2 separate regions of the Homo sapiens genome follow, and region 1 is linked to region 2. The links come from fine-mapping of genetic effects on plasma protein levels. Region 2 holds a variant in brackets. A gene starts in the other region. All regions are shown on their forward strands.

Region 1 (11,017 bases), not on the chromosome of region 2:
TGACCTTAGGGGTTAGTGGAAGCAAAAGCCCCAGGGAGCAGAAGTTGCCTGAGGAAGATGGCAGAGGATCAGAACCAAGGCAGGGAGGTAGAAGAACTGGAGGGTCCAGAGGAGAATGAGAGTATGCAATTTTAAGGTATTTACTGGAAGTGGCAGGAGAGCATTTAGAGGGAATAGTTGATCATAGGTATTGTGTCAGGGTTTCCCAGAGAAACAGAACTAACAGGTTATATCTATCTGTCTGTCTATCTATCTATCTATCTATCTATCTATCTATCTATCTATCTATCTATCATCTATGTATCTATCTCTGTCTAATCTACCTATCTATCTAATCTATCAATCTATCATCTATCTAGTCTATCTACCTACTTATCTCTAATCACCCACCAAAAAAGACTTATTACAAAAAATTGGCTAAGTATGGAGGCTAAGTCTCACCATCTGTAATCTGCAAGCTGGAGAACCAGGAAAGCTGGTGGTGCAATTCTGCCCACGCAGACAGAAAAAAGGCACAAACCCTTCTTTCCTCTGCCTTTTGTTCTATTCAGAACCTTAATGGATCGATGGATGCCTGCCCACATTGGGGAGGGCAATCTATTTTACTGAGTCCACTGATTTAAATGCTAATCTTATCTGGAAACACCTTCACAGATACTACGCTCACAGTATCACCCTCACAGATGCTGTACCTGGGCACCCCATGGCCCAGTCAAGTTGACACATAGAATTAATCATCATGAAGTGTGGGAAGCAGCAGAAGTTAGAGGTTAAGAAATGAGGACAAGAAAGGGCACATGAGTTGGTGGCTCCCAGGAAAACAAACCCAGTGGGCTTAGAAGGCAAGCATTATTTTGTAGCTCATAGCTCTTCAGCAGCTCCCAAGAGGTTGCCACGTTCCGGTCCTGGATTTCCAGACACTTGGCCTCGCTCCCCAGGTGCTCCAGGATTCTGCCGCACAACTCTCCGTGACGCTTGGTGCCTGCTCCCTGCAATGGGCTCCTTCTGCTCACTGTCTCCCTCCATCCTCACAGCCTTGCAGTCACAGCACCCCCAAGGGGCCTGCTTTCTCATTTGTCCTGGTTTCTCATGTGATCAGCCTGAGACCACACACCACAATACCAGTCCTCTGAACACTTACAGAACCGGCTTGCTGCTCATCACATACAACACGTGATAAGGGTATCATTTTAGATGTTTCATCAACAAATCAGACATGGCGCTAGACAGGAGGTAACTCGACAGGAGGTAACTCTTCGACTGCAGTTTATCCTTGGATGCTCTGAAGCCACAGGCTCAGTGTTTTGTCTAAAGTGGCTTTGACAAGTAACAATTCTTCCAAGGCTGCAGATGAGGGGGCTTAGATCCCAGAACCCCTTCTGCTTGGAGCAGAGAAGGGCCACTCTCTGATTGGAGATGGGAAGGGGACAAAGCGGTAAAGGACACGAGACTGAATTGCTGAGTGTCTGTTCTGGTCCTTCCCTGCTTGTCTGTGGATGGCTGCTAGTGTTAGATGGGACAATACAGGACACAACCCAAAAAAGGCAAGGACCAGTCACATAGGTGCACATTGCTGACCTGATCAAACCTGGGCCACAGACTGTCCCAACAACACAACCTCCTAGAATTGGACCATCTTGCAGATATGACCCAATGCCTCCATAGGCTTCCCACAAAGCCATGGAAACTGACTTGGGTTCTTTTGCTAAAAGGGAAAGCAGGGAAACATTTGTGGTTATGAAGTTTTCCACTACAGCTAAAATATTTTCCCCTTTCAGGATTTTATTATAATAAAATAATTATTATATAATAAAATAAAATAATTAGTGATACAAAGCCCAGAGATGGTCAATAACAAAGGGAAAGATATTTTTTTAATGGTAAAAACTTTATTTACTATTTATAAATACATTGCAAGACAAACTTCTCAAAAATACTTTTCCCCCCAAAAAGTTAAAAAAATAAAGAAAAGCTAATAGGTAGGCAGAATGTCTTGAGACCCCTCTGTTTTCAAGGAGAGCTCTATGCAGCGTGTGTCCACACCGAGGTCTGCAGCAGGGCAGAGTCTCCCTGAGCCTGACTTTGCCAGACCTTCTTGGGTTTGGCCTCCGGGAGAGCAGCCCAGTCTCTGGGCGTGAGCTCCTTTCCTCAGTCATGGCCACAGTTGTATCATATAGCATCTCTAACATTTCATCTAGGATTATCTAGTATAGATCTTACTATATTTGGGGCTATGTTGTATACAATGTTAACAAGAACATATCTTCTCTGCATATATGTGTGAATTATAAAGAAAAGCATGAGAATGACTCTAAGTTCAACAAACATGGGTGAATCTCTATGTGCTCCCAGTGTCCTGGATGGGCTCCCCAGCAAGCCATTCCTCCTTCCTGTTCTGATATTACTATTCTTTTTTACATTGTGCTAAGGAGGACAAAAGATGAGAGATGAAAATAAAGCTTTGCCTTTAAAGAGCTTATCCTCAGAAATAAGCTTCGTCTTGAGTTGTTGAACTACAAAACACTATTTTCTGCAGTCATCCGAAGAATTGTGCCATTACTTGTGATGCCTCTGAATGTGGAGGCTGACTCTCCCTGTCTCTCTGTCCCTCCTACCCCACGGGGCCGCAGCAAAAGCCATCCTGGGCCTTCGACTGGGCCATGTCTTCAGGAAGATTCCTGAAGAGGAGGGCCCGAAATACCTGCCTTTATAGGTTCCCAGAGTGCCCTAGAACATTCTTAGATACATATTTTTTAAACAAGTAGGACTCCACCTTATTTTCTCCAATAGTCCCCAAGCAGTACAGGTCACTTGAAGACATAAACATTCTTCTTGGTTGAGGGATCCACGCCCTTGTTTCAGAAATGACACCACAGAAGGCTGTGAGCTCCAGGAGCATGCGTTGGGATGTCCGGATGACCGGGGTTTAAAGGTTTTCCTATTCTCGATAAAGCCTGTGCGCACTGTACGGGGAGTGGGGGTGAAGCGTGTTCTCTACATAGGCAACACAGCCGCCTAAGTCACAAAGTCAGTGGTCGGCCGCTTCGACCAACATGTGGTGAGCATTCCACGGGCGCATGAAGTCTGGGTGCTGTGCTCGAGTCTCTGAATATTTTGATAGGAAGCGACAAGAAAATTCAAACTGCTCTTTGCTGACTACTGGAAAGTGAAAAGATGCTCAAGTTTACCATTCAAAGAAACCATAGGCATTTCAAAAACCTCTTTCTAAACTTTGGTTTAAAAAAAATCAGTTCACCACAAACAGAAATATAAATCGAGGCTGTAGCCAGCTGCTGGTCATGTCCTTGGCAGTCTTTTGTGCAAAATAAGGCATATTTGAGCTCCACATTAACTAAAACAAAAAGAAAAAGAAATATATTGAAATAATCCCCCCAAAATCAAAAGGGCTCGACTCTTGCCCTGAGATATCCAGCACAGCCTGCAGGCTAATGGCACTAGGCCTGCAAGTGCAGGGCTGGGGTCTCAACTCATGTTTTCAAACAAAGCAACGAGTACCAGATGCTGCTCACAGTGTTCATTGTCAAAGAGTTACCCTTAAATTAGAATTATTTTTTCCAACTTGTAAGGAAAAAAGAAACCCTTATAACTAAACATGCAAATTTCTTCTGCTTACTAAATTTGTCTTAATAAAATGAAAGAAAATGTATTTATTCCTTTCCCCCAATAGTTCCCTCATTTATTAAAAGAAAAAAGAAGACTGGATATAATAGCATTCTCTAAAATTATCGTTTAAAATTTCATTTTTCTATCAGATTTAAATTAACTTTATTAAAATTATATTAGCCACAGACTAACAGAATATTCATTATATATTTTACAGAAAAAAAAAGCTGCATCTTCAAACTGATGCTCTCCCAACTGAGCTATTTCAGCTGTCTCACATTCACATCTTTAATTTAGAAACATGTATCTTTAGCAGGTTCTTGCGGATTAAAACGGTTTCTCTGTGAAGATAAATGGACCTCCAGACCTCACGGGTAAAGCCTAACTTTGAAAATCTTCACTTTGTGTGTGGATGAATGATAGCTTAGGTGCTGTGAGGTATCTGAGATAAAGCAGAGTGTCCCTGAGGTGCACTGGCCGGCCTCCTTCCCCACACTTGTTTGGTTGGGTTGATGGGGTCTCCCTCTCCCTGCACCCTTCTGAGGGCTCTGTCCTATTTGCTTTGCTCTTTCTGGCCCTGAGCTGCAGCTCCTGGGTCTGTAAGCCTGGGGAAGGGCCAGTGGCCACGCCCAGCCCCTGAGGCTGGTCCAAGGACAGTGAGGCCCTGGAGCCCCAGGCTGCCCCTCCTGAGTACTCACCCTTGCGGCAGGCGTCTACTTGCTCTGCATGCTGTAGCAGTGCACGTCCTCCTTCCCCTTGGTGGTGTAGCCTGGGAGAGGCTGCCCATACTTATCCACACACCAGCAGAAGCCCCGCTTCCTGCCTTTGGAAGGGCGACACTGTGGGAGAGAAACAGAAGACAGAGAAGTGAATGCTCCTGGGTCTGGTGTCAGGTCGGTGGCCAGGGCGCATGATGGTTTGCCAGCGTGACTCTGCTATGCTGAGAAAGCACAACAGAAATTTCAGCTAAGGCAACACAAGAGCCATGCGTGCCTAGGCCCGCTGAGTGTGCGCCTGTGCATGCGTGTGGGTGTAACTTCCTGCTCCAAGAAAGCGGGGGTGGGGGCAGTTTTGTGTTTCTAGGAGTATAAGGTGGACACCAGCCCTTGTAGAACCTCTTGACTGACTTCTCTGCCAAATGTGGGACTGAGAACATCCCCGCTGCCTGCGAATGTCACAGCTATGACTTTGGAGCCCACATCCAGCCTCACATGACACCTTCTCAGTATGACTTTGTTGAATGAATATGACTTTGACAGAAAACGTGGGTATAAACGAGCAATGGCAATGGAGGAAAGCTTAGGCTTTCTGACTGTGGCCACTACTATGAATCCTAGTATATGGTCACCCTGAGGCCACTGTGGCTCACTTAGGTCTCCAAAGGCCAATTCTGTAGATAGCATAGTATCAATTGTCCAATTAGAAAGCCAATTGAAATAGTGCCATCACATAACACAAAGCCTATAGAAGCATATTTATTACAGCTTAATATTACTATATCTTAAATTTGTTTGATCATTTTCAGGTTAATTGGGATTTTAGGCATATGACTACATTTGGGGCTGATGTGTAGCCAGGATTCTCACTCCATTCCTTTTCCAGGAATGGGACTATGTTGCAATATAAAGATTTTGAAAAGACTGTTGTTTGATGTTGATGACTCTCATGCCTTCTTCTCACTTGGACTTTCTAGGGAAATGCCAGTGAGTCGGAGGAAGACCACATGGCCAGTTTGGAGAGACTGGCCATCCCCAGCATGGACCGAGTGTCTGATTTCAAGTTCCATCCCCTCCACGCCAAGACAGACACCTGGTATGTGCTGGGGATGGCTGGGCTCTCCAAGCTGGCCATGCTGCAGTCATCCCCCCACTCACTAGCATTTCCTTGAAAAGCCCAAGGGAGACAGAGACACACGAGTCACCAACATCTAGCAACAGCCTTTTCAAAATCTTAATATTGCAACCTGCTCACTATCGGGAAGGCATCAGTAGGAAAGGGGACGATTGTGGGATTTCAGGGTAAGCTTTTTGTGGTATGACCTCATGTCACACTTCTTGGAAACTGACTATAATAGTTGTTTGAAATGTCACTCCCTGACGCAGCATTAACAAATGTGTTAACATGTCCACTTGCAGTTTATAAAGGGTGCCACTGGGCAGCATCTTGTCCGCCCTGTGGGTGAACCATTGAAAGGACAGGAGTGGGAAGCGGGTGGTGGAAAGGCACTAGGGTTGAGGATTATGGCCAATATAGCAGCACTCAGAGCAACAAGTCAAAGCAGCCCTTGGTCTGACCTCCTGAGACTGGCACCAAGTCCTGGGCACTGGTGCTGCACAGGCTCAGAGTTAGAGCTATGGCCAGAAGAGCCTGGGGGCTGGTGAGATGGGTTTCTCCTCTGTGTCAACAGAAGAGGAAGAAAACACACTGAGGACCTCACTCACCTGCTTTTTCTTATAAAATCCCTTCTTGTCACAGTTGGGAATGTGTACACCCCTGGGACTCAGCACATTGAGGAACTTCAGGTGATTCAGTGTGTCTTCCATTTCTCTACGGCAGGGACCCTGGGGATCAGGAAGGACCAGAGCAACAGAGTCACAGTTTTTACTCTAGAATGTGTGCTTTAAAAATCTTACGATGCTGCACAACTACCAAAAGTGGGACCTGTAATTTGCTCCTCAGATACCTTATGTCTGATGTAGCACGAAAGTCCCCCGAATAAGCTAACCATCACTCCCTGTCTCCTTTTTGCTCTTCCCAGAGTAAGGCACAGAAGCTGGTATGGAACCAATAGCAGGTCAACAAGCATAGAGGATGAAGTAAATAAAACTATCTTTATGAGAATATTTTTCATTATCTGCAGAGGTCTTTATGACATCCCATATGCTTTTAAGAGTGTTATTTCAGCTTGATCCTCATAAGATTCTCCAAAAGGGTCAATATTCTTTATGTAAGGAGAGGAGAGAGGTAGGGCACAGAGGGGCTAGGGGTTGCCCACCCATCAGCCAGGCGCTGGGGTTTGTTGAGTAAGAATTGCCCTCAAGAGGCTCTGAGTACCCAGGCTTGGCAGGTCTTGCCCTCCTCCTTTAACAAGAGGAAAAGCTCTCACATATTCTGTCTCCCGCTTGGACTCGGAGGAGAAGTTCTGGGTATCTGTGCTCTGAGACTCGTAGTCAACTTTGTAGCGCTGGCTGTCTTTAGCATGCCCTTTCTTGATGATGATTATCTTTGAATGGAGGGGGTGGAACTTGGGATCAGACACCCGGTGCGTGCTGGAGACGGACGGGCTCTCCACACTGCCGGCGCTGCGGTCTTCCTCCGACTCACTAGCATTTCCTTAAAACGCCCAAGAGAGACAAACACATGAGAGTCATCAATATCTATCACAGTCTTTTAAAAATCTTAACGTTGCAACCAGGTCACATGTAAATGACAATATTAGTTGGCAATCCAAGTGAGTTTTTTTTTTTAAAATACCTCGATGAAGTATTATTCCATCATACTACTCACTACATGGTGGTTGCTCTACCTCAAGAAGTTATCTGTTTGAAAGTCAATCTGACAGGTGCTCTTCCTAAGTAGCTGCAACTAAAGAAGGCAGACAAACGCTTCAGTGCCCCTCAGTAGGTGAAGGCAGTATGCTTCATCTTCCACCGGCAGGGGGCAGACCTGAGCCACGGGAGGCTGCTGCAGCGCCGGCTCAGAAATTTTGCAGTCAACTCCAAGTGTGGTCCTCCCACCCGCGGGAGCAGCGGCAGCCCGGGGACTTGGAAGAAATGCACATTCTCCACTCCGGAAACGCTGGAGTGGCGGCAGCAGTCTGAGTTGTAACAAGCCCTTATGGGAATTCCAAGGTTGACCAGTACCGTCCTCAATGCTACCAGGTAAACACGCTTATAAGAGCTTGGTGTCCAGCTCAGATGGGAAAACTGAATTATTACCTGCAAAGCGTTTTGCCTCAGGGGCTCAGAATCATGCAAGCATGTTGGTGGCTTGTTTTCTAGGTCCCCGTTACATCTCTAAAACTCAAGGTCTACACAGACCCTGTGCATCTTGCTGGTGCCTGCCTAAGTGAGTCCTTTTCACCCCGGGTGAACACAGCAGCACATGGATGCAGACAATGCCAAAGTCCCACTCACGGCTCAGACTTCTAAGTGCCAAAGAGCTTTTCCTTCCCTGGGTGGGGGTGGGGTAGGAGAAATCCCCCTCCAGCAGATCTCCCTTTTATAATAAAAAGTGCTAAATGAAGAAAGTCTGATGCTTAAAATGGATGCTGGAATGTTAACAGTTGAATTGGAATTTTAAGTATATGACTAAATTCAAGACTGGATCTGCAGCCAGGATTCTCACTCCATTCCTTCTTCAGAATGAACTTGGAGGGGCTGTAAGACCGCTATGGGGATCAAAGGCTACATTCAGAGCCCATGCTCCCAGGGCCTGTGGACCATGCCAAGGTCTGGAGGCATCGGCTTAAGTCCACAATTGAGAGTCATGAAATTTCTCTACTACAACAAACAGGGCTATAATGTGTAACCCTAGCAGGGAGCTCAGGTGGCCCATCTGGTCCACAGTCTATTCTAGAAAGCTACCTGGGGCTGCAATGATTTGGCTGCAGATGCTCTGCTCTCCCCTGGAAGTGGCTACTGGCAGGTCACTCACCAGGGCCTTAGGAAAGTCCCTCTCCTCTCTGGGTCTTAGTTTCCTCACCTGCCAAACAGCTCACTGAGGTCCTGCTGTAAAGTTCCCCAAGGGGTTTCATACCTTGGGAAGCACACATTCCCAGGGTCCAGCACAGAGCCTCACAGAGGAGGTCCCTACCTGCGAGGATTTGGTTTCAATTTCTTTTAATCTTAGCTTGCTTTCTTTTTCAAGGAAATACTGAGATAAAAGAGATACTAAGAATGTAAATACTCTAAGAACATGTAAATAAACGTATTTATACTTCTTTTCTAAGAACCTTGAGTAATTTCTTAAATTTCCTTGGTTTCTTCTTAATGCCTGGGCTGCAGACTAGGGCATGAAGACAAAACAGTTCTATTTAAGCAACAGATAATTGTGACTTTTGACTGTCGAAAATTTACCTTTTTTTGTCAAATAGATTCTAGAAGTCACTTAGATCTTTTTATAATCTTATAACTCACATCAACCTATACTACAGTGCTACTAAGGTGGTAATCATGATGATTGCTAAAGCCCAAGAATGACGATGTGTATCAGTATTTCTAAGATCACTTTTTGAATACCCCAAAATGCACAATAATGTACGACACTTGGCAAATGACATAACTTTGCCCCGAGAGACAAATGCCTCCAGCAGCTTTAACAGCTGACCAGAGCCAGTGTATGTTTCAGGCATCTTGCCTTTCCATGAATCCAGCATTTCTCAGGGGTGAACAGAGCCAGCCTTGCCGAGCCAGAAAATAACTTCACCCGGGCGTGGAACTCTACAGCTACATAAATTATAAAGGGACTGTTCATCCTGCTAGCCCTAGATGGGGGCCTGCCCAGTGACATCTGTCCAACGTGATCGTTGGGGAGTTGGGGGAATTAGGATGGGGAGAATTCTCCCAGCCTTCAGCTGTGCAAGGCAGGAACTTTATTTCTCATATAACTAGGTGAGGCTGGCTAAGAATGCTTGAAAGAACAGCTGCCAAATCCATTTAAACAACCCCCGCTCCTTTTTTTAAGGGAACAATGTGATGCCCTTACCAGAGTCGCTGTCTGCCTGATACTGATAGTGGCTAAGCCAAGAGGGTAACTCTGCCAAATGTTTGCATTTTTCCTCTTCTGGGGCTCCCCTTAACAACATCTCATTCCCCCCCCCATTTCAGATTAAGAAGGGAGACAGCCCTAGGACTGATTCCAATTCCCTTCCGTGTCATTGAAATTGACTTAGTCCACATTGCCCGCACCCACCACGCACCTGGAAGTTTGTTTGAGGTCGGCGCAGGTGCAGGGGTGGCCCGAGTTGTAAGAATGGTATGGTACTGAAAGTGGCACGCGGAGTTCAAACCTACACTCTGTTGTGGCCGCTGGGTAACCTTAAGAAGTTACTTCTTTTTCAGCTTCAGGTTTTCCAACCGCAGAAGATATCAAAACCCGAATCCACTTTACTTGTTTTTGGACATACCGGGACTAGACATTGCTTTGCAAACCAAAAGGCTGTGCAAAGTCAGTATTTTAAAAGAGAGGTACTATTTCCTACAACGTGCCTGCCCACCTTCCTTGGTCCAAATCCGCCTATATCCCCCCCATCCCCAAGCATCCCTGGGATTGCAGTCCGTGTGCACCCCCGTGCGGGGCGAGGAGAATCTCCTGTGTCCAGGATCTTTCCAACAGCTAAACATCGGTACCGCTCCCCTCAGCTCCGGAAACCTTTAACCCATTTTCACTGAAAGCGCTTTGCAATTTACAAGTACTCTGCACTTAGAGAATCGAGCAAGTAGAGGGCCGGCTGGGGAGGGTCCCTCCGGCGACCGCCTTCACCTTTCCCGGAGCGCCTTCAGTTTCCCCACATATTATCTCCAGTGAGAAGAAAAGCGGAGTCTCCCGCAGCGGCACCCAGCAACCCCCAGGCCCTTCGGCGCCAGTGCGCCGGGTGCTGCACGCAGCGCACCTGGCGCGGGCGGCTCACCTGGAGCTGGCGGCGCTGGCAGCAGGTAGGCGCGCAGGCGGCTGACGGCACTAGCGTTGACGCAGAGCCCGCGGCCGTCCAGCAGCGCCTGCAGCGGTCGCGCCTCGTCGGGCGACGGCTGGCAGCGAAGGCCGGAGCCACAGCGCTCGGTGTAGATGCCGCACGGCTGGCCCTCGCTCAGTGCGCACGTCAGGCAGCAGCCGCAGCCCGGCTCGCGCACCAGCTCCGCGCACACGGCGGGCGGAGGCGCGCACTGGGCCAGTGCACGCGCGTCGCACGGCTCGCAGCGCACCACGGGACCCAAGCCCGCCGAGCTCGCGCCAGCCCGCGCCACCGGCGGCCCGCGGAGCAGCACCAGCAGAGTCAGCGCAGCGGCCCAGAGCGTGGGTCGCGCCCGCTGCATGACGCCTGCAACCGGGGCACGCTGCTTGGCAGGCTGGGCGCGCAGGGATGGGGCGACAGTACACGGCGCGAAGCTGTGGAATCCAGGCAGGAAGCGGCTGATCCTCAGCGCCCAGCCGCAGTGCTCGCATCTGGGCGGCCCGGGCGCGCCGGCCGCTATATAGAAGCCGGGGTGGCCCAGGACACGCCCCGGAACGGCGCGCCCAGGAGTGGGGGTTGGGAGGGGGGCGGGTCGGCGCAGGCACGGCTGCGGGGGCCCGTGCTTCGCCCTGAGCAGCCGGGGCCGAGCTCGGGGGCGTGCAGCTCGAGACTCGCCCGGGCACCTGCTCCTCGTGCGCACGCCCGGAGCCCGGGTCACCT
Region 2 (11,523 bases):
TTTCATTCCTTTATGCTGCTTGGGACAGGTGCGCTCCCAGAAGGGATCCTGTCGCCAGTTCTGGGGGAGCCCAGCCATGCTCTCCCCCTGCCCACCCCACAGAGCCCTCTCTGGACCTTGTGCCAGCACCCTGCTCCAGTGAATCTTTCAACCCTCTTCCCATTCACCAATTCTCTCTTCAGTGCTGTCCACACTGGAGTTGGTTCTGACCACTTTTGTAGTGTTTTTTTCCACTTAAATGATTGTATTTTTTACATCCAGGATTTGTAATTTTTAAAAATAGATGCCTGTTCATTTTACTCCTTAGACAGAAGCCAAATGTATTTCCTAACATTTTATCCATGCTGTCTCTGTGGATCCTGCACATATTTAAACATAGCCTAAGCGTACCTGTTTGCTCGTTATTTTTATCTCCCTGAGATGGATCCATGGGTCCACTGGCCCTGTTGATTTTCTGAGTCGTATTTCTTAGTGTGTTTGGGCCATGCGAGCTTGGGGATGTTGATTTCTAGGTTTGTTGGGGACAGAGGGCTTTCTCTTTGTGCTGTCAGCCTTGTGTTCTGGGCTCCCCCGTCCCCAGCTCTCCTTTCCTTGTCTACCAGATTTCAGTGGCCTTGGCCCAGCCCCACAGCCCCCAGCCAGGACTGTGGCCTTTCCTGGCAGCTGCTGGGGTCGTCCTGTGCTCTGAGGTGCCTCCAGGGTCAGGGCCGGTCAGCTGAGCAGCCCCAGGGCTCCAGACGGCACATGCTGAGGTCACCACAGCCGGCTCCACCCCTGCTCAGGCCGAGGTCCCCCAGGGAGGGGCTTGTCCCTGGTCTGGATCCTAGGGGACACTTTGATTCTCTGCTGGCCACCCCCAGAGTCACACAGCTCCAGGGTCAACCCAAACATCCGGACTTCCTCCGCCCCACTCGTCAGGGGAGGCATTGATCTTCTTTTTGAGACAGGGTCTTGCTCAGTCACCCAGGCTGGCGTGCAGTGGTGTAATCACAGCTCACTGCAGCCTCAACCTCCTGGGCTCAAATGATCCTCCTGACTCAGCCTCCTCAGTGGCTGGGACTACAGGCGCCCGCCACCACACTTGGCTAATTTTTGTATTTTTTGTAGAGACGGGGGTCTCACCATGTTGCCCAGGCTGGTCTTGAACTCCTGTCCTCAGGTGATCCACCCGCCTCGGCCTCCCACAGTGCTGGGATGACAGGCTTGAGCCACTGCACCCAGCCGGAGTATCATTTTTATGAATGATTTCAAACATGCAGAAAAATACAAAAACAATATACGAGGTACACACGTGCCCATGGCCTTGGACCCACAGACGTCACCATTCCCAGCCCACCCTTCTCCATGGACACCCCTCCCTCCCCTCCCCCAAGTCTCCCCTGTTCTCTCTCTGGGCCACAGTGGGGGGTTCCAGGGCCTGGGAGGGGGCTCAAAGCTCCGATGGGACTGGGCAGTGTCAGGTGGCTGCAGCCCCCATACGCTATGCCTCTGACCCGCCCACACCCCCCACCGCGGCTTCTCCTCCGGGCTGCAGGGTGTGCAGCCCCCGCCCGCAGTCCCCCCTCCTTCGCCCTGTGTGACTCCTGGGGCTCCGTGTGACCACTCTGTGTGGTTTGTGTGTTTGCTTCTCTGCAGCCGCCCCGTGGGGAGGGTGGTGTCTCTCTGGCCCTGTGCTGTGCCCCCGCCTGGGTTTACAGATGTCTGTCATTGCTGTGGGGGTGACGGTCCCTGCGCTGGCCTGGAGAGAGGTTCGGGGCCAACGGGCAGCGGGCACCCCGGTGAAAGTCCCTCGAGGCTGCGGTGGCGACACCACGTCCAGCCACTTCTCAGGTCGTCCTAGCCAGGTGCCATTCATCCCAGGCGGACAGGGGGCCGACCACCGGCCCCATCTCTCTCCACTGCCACCTCTCCCTGTGTGTCCCGGGAGGGGCCGCCCGCTGGGCCTCGGCTCCTTACCTGGTAGACGAGGGCAGCAGCACTGCAGGGCAGGCTCTGAGGGGCTTCAGGGAGACGCAGGTGCTGGCCTCAGACTCCAGGATGCTGCGGCCAGGCCAGGCGCCATCTGGGTGCAGGGGCGGCCACAGGGCAGCTGTCGCCATATCGACAGCAGCCGTCCGTCTGGGCTCCCGGGGCCACCTGCCCGCCGCTCCTTCCTCTCCTGGCTTATTTTCCAAACAATTTGCTTAACGTGATTCCCGGCCAAGCTAAACATGACTAATCGTGTTTACCCGGTGATCCCGCGCCTCCTGGCAGGCGGGGCTGGGGCCCAGGAGGAAGGAATGCCTGCATGTGCTGGTTCAGGGACTCACCACCCTGGCGTCCTCCCTTCTTCTCTTGCAGAGCCTGACGCACCCCAGGGCTGCCGCCATGGAGCCCCTGTTCCCAGCCTCCACGCCCAGCTGGAACGCCTCCTCCCCGGGGGCTGCCTCTGGAGGCGGTGACAACAGGACGCTGGTGGGGCCGGCGCCCTCGGCAGGGGCCCGGGCGGTGCTGGTGCCCGTGCTGTAC[C/A]TGCTGGTGTGTGCGGCCGGGCTGGGCGGGAACACGCTGGTCATCTACGTGGTGCTGCGCTTCGCCAAGATGAAGACCGTCACCAACATCTACATTCTCAACCTGGCAGTGGCCGACGTCCTGTACATGCTGGGGCTGCCTTTCCTGGCCACGCAGAACGCCGCGTCCTTCTGGCCCTTCGGCCCCGTCCTGTGCCGCCTGGTCATGACGCTGGACGGCGTCAACCAGTTCACCAGTGTCTTCTGCCTGACAGTCATGAGCGTGGACCGCTACCTGGCAGTGGTGCACCCGCTGAGCTCGGCCCGCTGGCGCCGCCCGCGTGTGGCCAAGCTGGCGAGCGCCGCGGCCTGGGTCCTGTCTCTGTGCATGTCGCTGCCGCTCCTGGTGTTCGCGGACGTGCAGGAGGGCGGTACCTGCAACGCCAGCTGGCCGGAGCCCGTGGGGCTGTGGGGCGCCGTCTTCATCATCTACACGGCCGTGCTGGGCTTCTTCGCGCCGCTGCTGGTCATCTGCCTGTGCTACCTGCTCATCGTGGTGAAGGTGAGGGCGGCGGGCGTGCGCGTGGGCTGCGTGCGGCGGCGCTCGGAGCGGAAGGTGACGCGCATGGTGTTGGTGGTGGTGCTGGTGTTTGCGGGATGTTGGCTGCCCTTCTTCACCGTCAACATCGTCAACCTGGCCGTGGCGCTGCCCCAGGAGCCCGCCTCCGCCGGCCTCTACTTCTTCGTGGTCATCCTCTCCTACGCCAACAGCTGTGCCAACCCCGTCCTCTACGGCTTCCTCTCTGACAACTTCCGCCAGAGCTTCCAGAAGGTTCTGTGCCTCCGCAAGGGCTCTGGTGCCAAGGACGCTGACGCCACGGAGCCGCGTCCAGACAGGATCCGGCAGCAGCAGGAGGCCACGCCACCCGCGCACCGCGCCGCAGCCAACGGGCTTATGCAGACCAGCAAGCTGTGAGAGTGCAGGCGGGGGGTGGGCGGCCCCGTGTCACCCCCAGGAGCGGAGGTTGCACTGCGGTGACCCCCACCCATGACCTGCCAGTCAGGATGCTCCCCGGCGGTGGTGTGAGGACAGAGCTGGCTGAAGCCAGGCTGGGGTAGACACAGGGCAGTAGGTTCCCCACCGTGACCGACCATCCCCTCTAACCGTCTGCCACACAGCGGGGGCTCCCGGGAGGTAGGGGAGGTGGCCAGACCGGTGGGGGGCTCCGCCATGCCGTGCAAGTGCTCAGGGCCGCCTCACCCTCCATCTGGCCCCAGCCCATGCCGGCCTTCCCTCTGGGGAGCGACTTTTCCAGAAGGCCGGCCAGGCGAGAGGGTCTTCCTGACGGCGGAGCTGACCTGCCCGGCCCACCAGCTGCATGTCAGCTCCGAGCCACCGGGTCCCCGTCCAAGGCTGCTCTGCTAAGTTAAAGACACCCGAAAGCGCTTGACTCAGGTCCCCGGAGTCCCTGGCCAGGGCCCCAGCCCCTCGCTTGCCCTGCACTGTGTGGACTCTGGGGATGCAGGTGTAAGGGGAGTGTGGCTGGGCAGCCCCTGGTCAGCCAGGGTCACGCCTGTCCTGGGGGCCCCACCCTGCTGCCCGACACCCCCCATGGGAGGCTGCGGGCGGCAGTTGCTGTCTCAGAGAGGGGAGTGTGGGGGCTTGGGCGCTGGCCTAGCCAGGGGCGAGGTGGGGAGGCGGCTGGTGCAGAGGAGAGCTGGGGGCTGAGGTTGGGGTGAAGGCTGCAGCCCTCCAGGCTGCTGGGGGTGCAGATGGCTGTGCCGTGCTGAGATTGGCTCTGTCTGGAGGGGTCCAGTGTGGGGTGCCTGAGGGCACTAGGGAGAGGTGCTCCTGCTGCAGGAGGACCTGAGGGTCAGGGCTTGGAGAGGACAGGGAACCTGCGGCCGTCTCTTCTGCTTTGGGGCAGGGGCTCTGGCCCGGGAGAGGGAACGGGGACAGGAGCAGAGGACGGTCATCCAGGCGCAGCGGGGAGCTGCTCCCCAGGCCACAGCAGACAGCACTGCTGAGAGGCAGCGGCCGCGCGGGTGACGCAAATGGCAGGCCCTGGGAATCCCGCCGCCTCCCACCTAGAATTGTCCTACCTCCCCCACCCCAAACACCAGCTTTTCCTGGCGCCCCAGGCCCAGAACGTGGGCCCAGAGAGCCTTGCTGGGGTCTCTGGGGCACCTTGGCCTTGCTCTGAGGCTGGAAGGAGAAGGACCAGGGTGCGGCATCACTCGGCCTCAGGGACCCCTCTGCCCTGCCCAGCACTGGCCCCGACCCGTGCTCCCGCCGTCTGCCCAGAGCAGGACCTCAACCTCCTGGAGGGCACAGGGAGCGGCTGAGTGGGCACAAATCCTGGCAGGAGAAAGGCCCAGGCTGAGGCCAGGCCTGGGAAACATCCAAGCAGTGAGGACACGCGTGTTTGACAACTGCTCCCCTGAATAAATGCGAGGATAAATGTTTGATTCTTTCCCCGAGCAAATATTGTCCCTGGAGCCGAGTGCAGCCAGCGCAGAGTGAGCGGAGCCTGGGCTCCCCCGAGGCCCGACACAGGGCCCGCCCCCGGCCCCAGCCCCGCTGAGCCAGACAAGGCCGGGACGGGGGCGGCCAAATGCCCAGCAGGAAGCGGGAGGCGTGGAATTCGTGAACAGGGTGAAAAATGATGGAAGCTGCCTGGGGTCTTAGGCTGGAGCTGCCCCTCACAGCTTCTTGACAGCTCTGGGCGGGGCAGGGTGGGCTTCTGCAGGGGGTCCACAAATCTCTGCCTCTTGAGTCACCAAAGAGGGGTGCATCCAGGGTGCACTGGGGGAAACCGAGGCCCGTTCACACCGCAGCACCCCCCTCGACCTGCCTCCCCAGGGATTTGGGTGCCATGTTCACCCTCTCAGAAGGCTTTGGGGACCGAGCAGATGGCTCGGAAATCCCTGCCAAGATCAATTTCTCCAATTGATTTGACACCGGGCGCTCTCCCTGCAGGGCCGGCAGCCACGAGGGGCAGACAGAGGCGCCAGTGCCCTCACTCTCGGGTGAAGACGCCCTTGACCCCCAGCCCATTCGACCCGGCCACAAGCCTCGGGCCACCCTGCTCCCCACCTTGTCCAGCCTGAAGCCCCCAGGACCCCGGTCCCTGTCCGTCCCAGGCCCCAGCCTCATGGCCCTGCCGAGCTCCCCAGTCTGGTCCCGGCCACCCACAGCCCACATCTGTGCCTTTGGTCATAGCCTCGTCCCCATCAGGTGCACACCCTCCCCACAAACCAGACCTGCCGGCACAGCCTCTTCTTCCCTTGACCCCCAGGACGCTGTCACGCTGACCTTCTGGGGACGGTGGGCTCATGACGGCAGCCCCACAGCTGGGCCTAGGACTTACTGCCCTTGACCCCCTGGGCTGGCTGAGCCCTGAACACGTGTCTCCATCGGACAAACACACCTGCAGGGCACCAGCATGGGGCTGGGTCGTGGGATCAAGGTTGAACCGGAAGAGCATTCCAGGCAGAGGGAACAGCCTATGGGAGGGCTCAGAGGCAAAGGGGCACAGGGGGGTTAGCTGTGGGGGTCAATTCAGAGAGAGGAGCAGATCCAGGCCCCTCAAGTTCTGCCCCCATGCTGCCCCAGGGAAGGACGAAGCTGCGCTCACTCCAGCTTGAGAGAGGAGACTGGACGAGAGGCGGGAAGAGGCACACACAGGGAGTGTGCGGAAGCTGTGAGTCATCCAGAACACGCAGCGGCCTGGCCCGGGGCCGGGGCCCCAGGGGTGCTCACGAGGCAGGGGCAGCCCCTGTCCAGGCCTGGAGAAGGGGGCAGTGGCACCTGGCTGGTTCCTGCTTGGAGCACGTGGGAGGACAAGGCCCCGGGGTCTGATGGCCTCAGTGGGCTGAGAGGGCTGAAGATGTCTGGGGAGGTCCCAGGCAGCCCATGGACCAGGCTGGGCAGAGCCACGGGGAAGAGGACAAGGCCTGGATGCCCCCAGGGCACCAGCATGAAAGGCCGGGTGGGGTCAGGTGAGTGTCTGGAAGGAGCATGGGCCCTGGACCCCTACATCCTCACCTCCCGGGGCAGTGGGGGCCTGTGGGTGGCAGGGGCCGCGGAGCCGAGACCCCTTGCAGGCCACCGGAGAACCCGGTGGGGGTGGGGGGTGCGGCGCGGAGCAAACATCCTGGGCGGGGTGGCTTCCCGGCCCGCGCGCATCACTGGGTTTTATTGGCTCTGGGCTCCAGCGACTCCAGTGACCTTGCTCAGGAAACAGGCCCGGGCAGGACGAGGAGGGCGGGAGGGATCTGTTTGCCTGGCAGAGTGGGTGTGGGGAAGACGGGGCCAAGGAGAAGCAGCCCCCACAGGCAGGAGGAGGTGTCGTTAGCTCCACAGTGAGGGAAACTGCGGCCGGGCCGTCGTGGATGCTGACAGACCCCAGCGGGCCGACCCTCATCCCAACCCAGCCCCATCAGCAGGGGTGCCCTGGGGCGGGATGTGGGGGTCTGTGGAGGACCTGGAAGGCCTCCTGGGGAGGGAAGGGGGCAGAGGCGACCGGCAGCCATGGGGCCCCCAGAAGCAGCCACTGGCCCAGGGCCCCGGGGAAGCCGTTTCCTCCCACCAGACGAGACCCCAAGAGAGTGGGTGGGGTGGGGACGGGGAGTGGGACCAGCTGTGGGGTCTCAGGGAGGCAGTCTGGGGGAAGACTGCCCCTAGGACAGGCCCCTCTGCCCTCCCAAGGCCGGGTCTTGGCAGCACAAGCAACCGCTGTGGGTGCAGCAGAGGCGGGCGCTGGCCACGCTGCCCCGTGGAGGCCTGGAGCCACCTCGGGCTCTGCACTCCTGTGGGTGGCAGGAGCCGCCCAGGGCCCCTGGCAGGCTGTTAGGTGGAGTCAACCTCCTGGGTTCATTCTCTTCTGTCCCCACCCTGGCTCGGCCACAGCAGCCACCGCCTCTGGCTACGTCTCCCTCCTTACTCCCAACCCCACCTCCACTTCCAGCCCCATTTTATCCCAAACACAAATCTGTTCATGTCCCTCTGCTGCTCACGAGCCTTCTGTGGTTCCCACTCCTCAACCCACGCTTCCCAGGGCTCTGTCCCCGTCCTGGGAAACGGGTGTGATCACGTAGTGTGGTTTGAGGAGGGCTCACAAGGATACCGTCAGGACCAGGTGCCAGGTGCAATGGTTCATACCTATAATCCCAGCAACTGCTGAGGCTGAGGCAGGCAGAGAGCTTGAGCTCGGGGGTTTGAGGCCAGCCTGGGCAACATAGTAAGACCCTGTCTCTACACAATCTACAAAAATTATTCAGTGGTGCTGGTGCATGCCTGTCGTCTCACATACTGGGGAGGCTGAGACAGGAGGACTGCTTGAGCCTGGGAGGCGGAGGCTTCAGTGAGCTCTGATCATGCCACTGCACTGCAGCAAGACCCCGTCTCAAAGGAAAAAAAGGCCCTTTGTGAAGTGAGGAGTACAGTGCCCTGGCTGACACCTTGGCTTTATCAGCCTAGAGGTTCAAGGTTTGGGGCAGGGTCCTCAGAACCCGGAGATGAGACGGCTGGGAGAGGAGAGGCTACCTGTGGAGCAGAGACAGCCAGGGCCTGCTGGACTCCCCAGTTCTCCCTCCCAGGGCCTGCTGGACTCCCCAGTTCTCCCTCCCGGGGCCTGCTGGGCTCTCCAGTGGCCGAACGCAGCTGGAAGCTCTTGGTTTTGTCTATAGTGGTCGGCAACTCATGTAGAGCAGTGGGATGGGTGAGATGGGGCTGTGGAACAGAAGACACTGGCCCCTCCACCTGAGTCCCTGTTCTGATGTTCATCGCCCCAGAGAGGGTGGCCGGAGAGTGAGGGGATGCCCAGGATCTGCCTTTGTCCCAGTCGGAGCTCCTGCCTCTCACCGCACTCTGGTGCCCAGGTCCTGCCCATGGGTGCCTCCCTCCATGGGGGCTTGGAGCTTCAGGAAGGCAGTGCTGGCCATGCCTGTGCCCTCAGACATGTCCTCTCACTCCTAACTCTGCCTCCAGGAATCATGGTGGGGGCAGTTCCCTAGAGCGAGGCAAGGATTCCATGGCTGCCAGTGCAGTGGGGAGAGGTTCACAGGAGAGGGAGGTCTGGCTGCTGTTCCTGTCCACCTGGCTATGGCTTTGCCCAGCTCTCTGTACACTGGGTCTGCCTACTGTGATCCCCTGCCAGGCCCTGCCCATGTGTTTCCTGAGGGACACGGACGATGGTAGTGACCAGGCAGCTTGGAGATGCCTGTAAGCCACACGAGAATATCTAGACACTGGCACTCATGATGGTGTGAATCCACGATGATTTTTCATTCCTTCCTGTATCTTCCAAATTCTCTATTTCCTCTCAAGTTTTCCTCCTCCATCTGTGCAAGACCCCTGCAGGGCAGGAAGGCCGTCCTTTGCTGTCTATGGGACAGCCCTTCCTAGGGTCCCATGTTTTAGTTTCAGGATTGACACAAAGTAGAATGTTTTACTTTCATGAAGTCCAACCTATCATGTATCTACTTGGAAAATTATTCTGCTTTTTATCAGTGGGAGGTTTTTCCCCATTCACAGATTAGCCAAATGTCCCCACGTATTTTTTAAAATTTTGGTAAAATACGTATGACAGATTTTTACCACCATAACCATTTTTGTGGATGGTCCTATGGCATTAAGGACACTTACACTGTGGTGCAACCATCACCCCCATTTATCTCCAGAACTCTTCTCAAAACCACAAACTGAAACTCTGTCCCCATTAAACGACTCCCTATTCCCACCCCCAGCCCCGGCACCTGCCCTTCTACTTTCTGTCTCTATGAATTTGAGTCCTCTAGGTGCCTCGCGCAATTCGAATCAGACAGCATTTGTCCTTTTGTGACTGATTATTTCACTCGGCGCACTGCCTTTGAGGCTCATCCACGGAGCACGTGCCAGAATTTCCTCCCTGTCTGAGGTTGGCCACTGTCCCCGTGCATGCGTGGACCACATTTGGTTTTTCCATTCATCATCAGCAGACACCTGGGCGGTGTCCACAGTCTGAGTCCACTCCTGCTGCTGTCATAGAATACCCCACCCCTTAATACCATCACAGTGACCATCAGCTTCAGCATAGGAATTCTGGGGGCACATTCCGACCACAGCACCTACCTTATGGCTACAGTGAGTAACGCTGCTGTGAACATGGGTGTACATCTCACAATCCCACATGGGTTTTGTTGGTGGTGGTTGTGTGTGTGTGTGTGTGGCAGGATCTCGCTTGTTGCCCAGGCTGGAGTGCAATGGTGCAATCTTGGCTCACTGCAACCTGTGCCTCCTGGGTTCAAGTGATTCTTCTGCCTCAGCCTCCTGAGTAGCTGGGATTACAGGCACCCACCGCCTCACCCAGCTAATTTTTGTATTTTTGGTAGAGACAGGGTTTCGCCATGTTGGCCAGGCTGGTCTCGAACTCCTGACCTCAGGTGATCTGCCCACCTCGGCCTCCGAAAATGCTGGGACTACAGGCGTGAGTCACTGCACCCGGCCTACCCCACCTCTTAATACCATCACAGTGACCATCAGCTTCAGCATAGGAATTCTGGGGACACATTGTGACCACAGCAGCTACCTTCTGGCTACAGTGAGTAATGCTGCTGTGAACATGGGCGTACATCCCACAATCCCACATGGCTTTTGGTGGCGGTTTTGTGTGTGTGGAGGGGTGAGGGGCAGAGTATCGCTCTGTCGCCTAGGCTGGAATGCAGTGGCGCAATCTCAGCTCACTGCAACCTCTGCCTCCCGTGTTCAGGCAATTCTCCTGCCTCAGCCTCCCCAGTAGCTGAGATTACAGGCGCCCCCCACCACACCCAGCTAATTTGTGTGTTTTTAGTAGAGACGGGGTTTCACTATGTTGGCCAGGCTGGTCTCAATCTCCTGATCTCAGATGATGCACCTGCCTCAGTCTCCCAAAGTGCTGGGATTACAGGTGTGAGCCACTATGCCCAGCTGGTCCCACATGTTTCTAAAGATTATATGGCTGAAAATTATTTCATTCAACTGAAATTTGTATTATCACATGACATGAATTTTTTTTTCTTTTTTTTTTGAGACAGAGTTTTGCTCTTCTTGCCTAGGCTGGAGTGCAATGGTGCGATCTCGGCTCGCCGCAACCTCTGCCTCGCAGGTTCAAGCAATTTACCTGCCTCAGCCTCCCGAGTAGCTGGGATTACAGGCATGTGCCACCACACCCGGCTAATTTTGTAATTTTAGTAGAGACGGGGTTTCTCCATGTTGGTCAGGCTGGTCTTGAACTCCCGACCTCAGGTGATCCGCCCGCCTCGGTTTCCCAAAGTGCTGGGATTACAGGCGACATGAATTTCAAATGAAAAATACCCCTCCTTGTGGCTGCCTCTGCCTTCCTGGTATATTTCCTGGTATATGGGGCGCCCTCTTGTTCTTTGGGGGCGAGGAGCTCTGGCAGTCTGGTGTCTGCTTGGTGGCCACTGTGTTATGATATCTAATAGGGAAAGTCTCCACCCACCACTGAGCTGAGCTAAAATTGTTTAGAATCCTATCCATTCTTTCAGGTTCTCTTCAACACTGCTTTTACAAAAATTTAAAAAATGGAATTTGGGCCAGCGTGGTGGCTCATGCCTACAATCCCAGCACTTTGGGAGGCCGAGGCTGGAGGATCAGTTGAGCCCAGGAGTTCAAGACCAGCTTGGGCAACATGGCGAAACCCCATCTCTACAAGAAAAAAATTTTTAAATTAGTTGAGCGTGGTGGCATGTGCCTGCAGTCCCAGCGACTTGAGAGGCTGGGGTGGGAGGACGGCTTGAGCCCAGGAGTTCAAAGCTGCAGTGAGTGACTGTGTCACCGCACATCAGCCTGGGTGACAGAAAAAGACCTTGTCAAAAAAAAAAAAAAAAAATGGAGTGTTTACAGAAATGTTCATAGTAGCATTATCTATAACCCATAATAGCCAAAAGGTAGAAACAACCCAGGTGTCCATCAATAAACAATGGACAAACAAATGTGGTCCATCCACAGGACAGAATATTACTTGTGTGACTCCATTTCCATGAAATGCCCAGA

Alleles and levels. Alleles are on the strand shown, and positions count from the first base shown. The strength of an association depends on the size of the effect and on how common the allele is.
With allele C in place of A in region 2, the plasma level of the protein whose gene starts at base 10,790 in region 1 is higher (weak association).

Evidence for each region. PIP is the posterior inclusion probability: the model's chance that the variant is causal. Protein levels are from antibody-based Olink assays in UK Biobank. Linkage for the fine-mapping came from a reference panel and not from the study's own genotypes, which makes the PIPs less certain.
Region 1: it holds the start of IGFBP3, and the variant in region 2 is fine-mapped to the plasma level of the IGFBP3 protein (UK Biobank, PIP above 0.99).

Annotation. Positions count from the first base shown.
Region 1 is chr7:45,910,483-45,921,499 of GRCh38, forward strand. It overlaps IGFBP3 (insulin like growth factor binding protein 3), which reads right to left and starts at 10,790. Exons shown (of 5, transcript NM_000598.5): 1 at 10,256-10,790; 2 at 6,731-6,957; 3 at 6,066-6,185; 4 at 4,323-4,463; 5 at 1,763-3,352. The coding sequence starts at 10,658. The coding sequence ends at 4,338. RefSeq lists an enhancer at 10,593-11,017.
Region 2 is chr16:1,076,502-1,088,024 of GRCh38, forward strand. It overlaps SSTR5 (somatostatin receptor 5), which reads left to right. Exons shown (of 2, transcript NM_001172560.3): 2 at 2,341-4,953. The coding sequence starts at 2,368. The coding sequence ends at 3,462. SSTR5-AS1 (SSTR5 antisense RNA 1) reads right to left here and starts at 2,230. Exons shown (of 4, transcript NR_027242.1): 1 at 1,957-2,230; 2 at 1,123-1,211. RefSeq lists enhancers at 1,984-2,648, 6,430-7,282. The variant C/A (reference allele first, on the strand shown) is at 2,509.